Linked DNA regions of Homo sapiens: region 2 is linked to region 1. Evidence: fine-mapped expression QTL. Tissue or cell type: whole blood. Region 1 holds a variant in brackets; the other region holds the start of a gene. All regions are shown on one strand. Distances are between the middles of the regions.

The links. PIP is the estimated chance that this variant, and not a neighbour inherited with it, causes the effect.
Region 2: PLXNC1 starts here. The variant in region 1 is fine-mapped to the expression of PLXNC1 in whole blood (TOPMed, PIP above 0.99).

What each region holds. Positions count from the first base shown.
Region 1 is chr12:94,122,542-94,125,447 of GRCh38, forward strand. The region is part of intron 1 of LOC124902986 (a long non-coding RNA gene); the gene reads left to right. Among named protein-coding and RNA genes, the nearest start is that of PLXNC1, 25 kb to the right of the region's middle. The variant G/A (reference allele first, on the strand shown) is at 1,487.
Region 2 is chr12:94,147,011-94,149,916 of GRCh38, forward strand. PLXNC1 (plexin C1) reads left to right here and starts at 1,567. Exons shown (of 31, transcript NM_005761.3): 1 at 1,567-2,906. The coding sequence starts at 1,962. RefSeq lists silencers at 1,334-1,463, 1,474-1,723, 1,794-2,023, 2,154-2,393 and an enhancer at 2,594-2,693.

The DNA of each region.
Region 1 (2,906 bases):
CATACAAATTACGTATTTACCCAAATACTCTAACATGCTAACAATCCTTTCTTTTGAAACTTCCTGGTTTAACCGATCTGACAAACAGATCCTTCATTTCTGTTCGCTCTATTTTATTCATTCAGTGTATCACAAGTTGACCATAGCAAGACGAGAAATGCATTAAGGATCATGATTTTGCAAAGCATTAATAAGGATACTGGGACAAGGAAGTTAAGCTTTTGATGGCCTTGATACAACTATTTCAAACTTCTCTATTTCAAACTGACTTCTGCACAAGGGCACCACATCTAAAGGACCATCATTGATAGTAAACACAGTTAGTTTGTATATTTATTATGATAGTTTTCTGGCAGATGATAGTCATGTGTCTTATTCTAATAAATCAGCCCATGACAACAATTTTCCAACAGAAGTAAGCCAAGTGTCTTGAAGAAGGGGTGGGAGTGTGCCTTTTGTAATTCACACACAGGGGCAGTTTGGGCTACATGCAACCCAGAAAGGATTGTTAGCATGTTGGGGTATTTGGGTAAATATGTCATTTGTATGTGGTTAAGGTTCAATAGTAGCCTGGTTTGGGGCATTTAATGGTGTGTGTGAGATGCTTGAAATGAACAGTAAGGTAATATCTTTCCTGCATTTGATTTCCCAAATTAAAATGTCCCTACATCAAATGGCTGTGGATTTACCCTGTCCACTGATCTCTTCCCTGGTCATCCCTGATCTGGGGACAAGTCTTCTGTCAAAAAGGGGCTGAGTGAGCAGCAGCTGGGCTTTCCCTCTCCGCCCTCTCCAGAGCAGGCTCCTTGTGGTCTGCCAGCCACAACATAAAAGTGGAAGTAGTAGTCTGGCTTCTTCTTGGTCAGTTTAAGGTGAGGAGTTTTGTGGGGTTTTTTTGTTTTTTGTTTTTTGTTTTTTGTTTTTTTTGAGTTTTTTTTTTTTTTTTGGAGGTGGAGTCTCACTCTGTCGCCCAGGCTGGAGTGCAGTGGCGCGATCTCGGCTCACTGCATCCTCCACCTCCCGGGTTCAAGCGATTCTCATGCCTCAGCCTCAGGAGTAGCTGGGATTACAGACACCTACCTCCACACCTGGCTAATTTTTATATTTTTAGTAGAGATGTGATTTCACCATGTTGGCCAGGCTGGTCTCGAACTTCTGACCTCAAGTGATCCACCCGCCTCGGCCTCCCAAAGTGCTGGGATTACAGGCATGAGCCACCACGCCCAGCCAGAGCTATTTTTTTTTCTACATTACACTTTGAAAACAAAAAACTTCCCCTCCCCTTTCTCTCTGTCTTCCTTCCCTGAGCTCTGTTTGTGTTGTCCCTACTAATCCCAGGACATCCCCTGTGGAGCTGGAGCTCTTTCTTCATTTTTTCCTTTTCTCCACTTCAGGTCTTAACTTTAAAAACATCTGGGCTATTCCTATACCCAGCCCTGGGTGTCTGAACCTGTTCAGGGAGGTTAGGGTACTGTTGATTGCCCCA[G/A]ACTCTGAGGTTTGGGCATGCACTTCCTGCCACCCTAGAAGTTTCAAAAAAAAAAAGAAGTGTTTCTTAGTAAAAGGGCAGTGAATTCTCAAATTCTATAGTTTCCCTTCCTCCACTTTCATATCTCAGCTACTATCAGAGTAACTTTACCCTACTTTCTCACCCCTGTCTCTGTAAGCCTGATGAAAATCAGGAAGTATATAGTGATGTAGGAGTGGCTGAACATTCTCTGGAGATGGGACACACAAACTTTAGGATCCTGGAAGAAGCTATCAGAGGATCCAGTGTTAAATTACAAAGTTTGGAGTAGGGTCACTTTTCTAAGTGCTGATGTGTTTTCAAAAGAGAAGTATCTTGTAGAGCAAGAGGATGCCATGCTGCCTGGAAGTGACCTTGGGTATAATGGGAACCCTGATACATTCATTTATTCCATTTGTTTACAACAGGTATACTTTTATTCATTCATTTTTTACAACAGGTACAGTTTCATTTCATTCATTAAGCATTTGGTATGTGCCAGGCAATTTGCTAGGAATCGAGGATAATCAGTAAACACAACTAGCCTTCGTGGAGTGAACAGGCTAGTGTTGGAGAATTCACTAGCTAGATAAACTATTCCTATGCAATTACACACAGTGTTAAGTGTTCTAAAGAGAAACACTGTGTGGAAAGAGGGAATAATATAGGGGACGCAACTTTCGACTGTGAGTGAGGGAAAGCATGTCTGAGCTGGGCTTTTAAGCTGAGACCTGCAGGATGAGAGGGAGCCAGCCTGCGGAAGGTTGCGCCAGGCAGCAGCAACAATCATACAAAGACTAAGACATGAAAACTCTAGAACATAAGTTTCGACCCTTCTCCTTTTTCCCAGCTCCTAAGGTTTCGCTTCATCCTGGCTTCTTTGTTATTTCCACTAGTAAAGTACGAGAAGCACTCAGCACCACACCTGGCATAACTAACACTTCTCATGTGCCAGGTGCTACTGGAAGTGTGTTATGTGCATTAACTCATTTAATCCTCATAACCACCCAAGGATGGAGGGTCTATTCATGTCCCTATTTCACAGATGAAGAAACTGCACAAGTCACTATGCAATAATGGCCACGATTATTATTGGAATTAGTAATTTCATCAATAATAGCACAGTGACAATTTTCAGACTTCTGGCAGACTTAATTTTGTTTATTTCTGACCTTTACACTGCTCATTGAGAGCCTCTTTAGTAGACTTCTTCCGTGTACTTTGCAAATTGTAAAAGCTTGTTTCTTTTAAAAAATCCATTATTAATGTTATTGGTGGAAAACTTTTTTAACACTGCTGGTCAGGCTTTATAGAAAAATCCCTTTCTGTATCCTCCCTCATCAGCAATACTTCTCCGAATTCCCTTCGATTCAGCAAAGGTTTATTAAGAACCTGCTAATTG
Region 2 (2,906 bases), 24 kb after region 1:
AAAGCCACCTCATTCCTTTCCCTTCCCAAAACAGCATCTCGAGCTGGGGAACTTGGAGGGAAGGAAGAAAGGGGATAGCAGCCAATTGCCCTCCCTGGGGCCTGGGGTCTGGAAATAGCCTGGGAAGGAACAGAGATCATTTCCCAACGATCCATAGAGGTCCTCAGCACCCTCCACTCCTATGCACCCCCTGGCTCATCTGCCAGACTGTAAGGGTGCTGATGGTGCCCGCAGCTGCCCCGGGAAGCTGGGAGGCATTTGTGCATCCTCTGGGAAGCCCCATTCCGAGAAATCATGAACCTATTCCCCAGTGGGCAATGATTCCCTGTGCTTCAGAAATTCTTGGCGGCTGTGGGGGCAACCCAGCTGTTATTCACCCTCTGGGTGAGGTGGTGAGACCTCAGGGGGTCCAAAGGATAAAAGTGGGTAATGATGAGACAGATGGAGAGCCTCGAGGGAAATACGGGGACTTGGGTCTAATAGTAGAAAGCAGGGCGGGGGCTGGTTGGTGCATTTAACTTGAGGAACTTTTCAGTCTCACTACAGAGAATGATCTCTGGGGGATTATGGCAATGGCCACAGGTGGCACTTAACTAGAGCCAGGTATGTAAGAGGCCCTGGGGCTAGATATGGATTCGAATCTCGGCTCTGATATCTACCAGCAGTAGAATGCCAGCACGTTCCACAACCTTTCTATAACCATTCTCCTGGACTACTAAGTAGGGATGACAATAACAGTCACTAATTAATAGGGCTGTTATGAGAATTATGAGTCTTAACCCATGTGGTGAGTTCACAAGCGCACCCGGCACGTAGTAAGTGCTCAGTAAATGTTAGCCCCGCTCATTAGGTTAGATGGTGAGCAGAACTTTCCAAGTGCTAGGCTTGAGAGCCTGGGACTCTGTTGCCAAGGGAGATTAGAGAACCTTTGCAAATATGGGCGCTCCGGCCCTGGGGATTGTCCAGAACGAGAGTGTGGCGCCTGCCTTTCTGCCACCTCACTCATCCGACCCGGGGAAACCCACACCCTGTCACAGGGGCGCCTTGGTCCCCGGAGTCTCCGGCTCGGCCATGTCTCCCGCGCGCCTCCCCGGGGCCTCCCTCTCGCCGCTCCACACCTGTCAGCCGCTCTCGCAGCAGCCCTGTGGCCCGAGCCCGGGGCCTCAGCTGCAACCCCTTCGCACCCTGGATCCTCGCTCCGCGCGCCTGGCGTATCCCCGACCCGGCTGCTGTCGTAAACAAAACCGGGCGTTGGAGCAGCACCGCGGGCGGACGGGCGCGGGAGCCCGCTCCGTGCGCCGTTAGCGCGCCCCGGGAGCCCCAGGCGAGCCAAGGGGGCGATGGTGGCGGCCGCGGCGGCCGCGGCGGGCGGCTGAGCTTTGTTATGAATAGATGAAAGAGGCCACCTACACAGTAACCCAAATTACGAGACCTCCCTCCTCCCTATCTCACCGAATCAAGAGGGGAGGGGAGATGGGCGTGGAGGGAGGGCGGGCGGGCGGGCAGGAGGCGGAGGGCGGAGGAGGAAGAGAGGATGAGGAAGGGGGCCAGTTGCATCCCACTTTCACAATGGGAAAGTGAAACGCACAAGCGCACCCAACCTCTCCAGCCCTCCCCGCCCGCCTCGCTCCTCTCCGCCCGTCCCCTCCCTTCCCCTCCGCGCCTCCCCGCGAGCGCCAGCGCTGCACACAGGAACTCTCCGGCGAAGGAGGGCGAGGAGGAAACGGTGCCGGAGCGCGCAGGGCTTGCTGCCGCCACCGCCGCTGCACAGGCTGCCGGAGCGAGCCTGCCGCGCGCCGCCCTCCCCGCTCTCCTTCCTGGGCGAGCTGCGGGGATGGGGCGGCCGCGGGAGCCCGAGCGCGCGCAGGAACCGCCGCCGCCGCCGCCCGCGTCTCCGTTGCCGCGCGCCTGAGCCGCCGTCGCCGCCGCGCGCCCTGCCCGGGGGCGGCCCCCCCAGCCCCATGGAGGTCTCCCGGAGGAAGGCGCCGCCGCGCCCCCCGCGCCCCGCAGCGCCACTGCCCCTGCTCGCCTATCTGCTGGCACTGGCGGCTCCCGGCCGGGGCGCGGACGAGCCCGTGTGGCGGTCGGAGCAAGCCATCGGAGCCATCGCGGCGAGCCAGGAGGACGGCGTGTTTGTGGCGAGCGGCAGCTGCCTGGACCAGCTGGACTACAGCCTGGAGCACAGCCTCTCGCGCCTGTACCGGGACCAAGCGGGCAACTGCACAGAGCCGGTCTCGCTGGCGCCCCCCGCGCGGCCCCGGCCCGGGAGCAGCTTCAGCAAGCTGCTGCTGCCCTACCGCGAGGGGGCGGCCGGCCTCGGGGGGCTGCTGCTCACCGGCTGGACCTTCGACCGGGGCGCCTGCGAGGTGCGGCCCCTGGGCAACCTGAGCCGCAACTCCCTGCGCAACGGCACCGAGGTGGTGTCGTGCCACCCGCAGGGCTCGACGGCCGGCGTGGTGTACCGCGCGGGCCGGAACAACCGCTGGTACCTGGCGGTGGCCGCCACCTACGTGCTGCCTGAGCCGGAGACGGCGAGCCGCTGCAACCCCGCGGCATCCGACCACGACACGGCCATCGCGCTCAAGGACACGGAGGGGCGCAGCCTGGCCACGCAGGAGCTGGGGCGCCTCAAGCTGTGCGAGGGCGCGGGCAGCCTGCACTTCGTGGACGCCTTTCTCTGGAACGGCAGCATCTACTTCCCCTACTACCCCTACAACTACACGAGCGGCGCTGCCACCGGCTGGCCCAGCATGGCGCGCATCGCGCAGAGCACCGAGGTGCTGTTCCAGGGCCAGGCATCCCTCGACTGCGGCCACGGCCACCCCGACGGCCGCCGCCTGCTCCTCTCCTCCAGCCTAGTGGAGGCCCTGGACGTCTGGGCGGGAGTGTTCAGCGCGGCCGCTGGA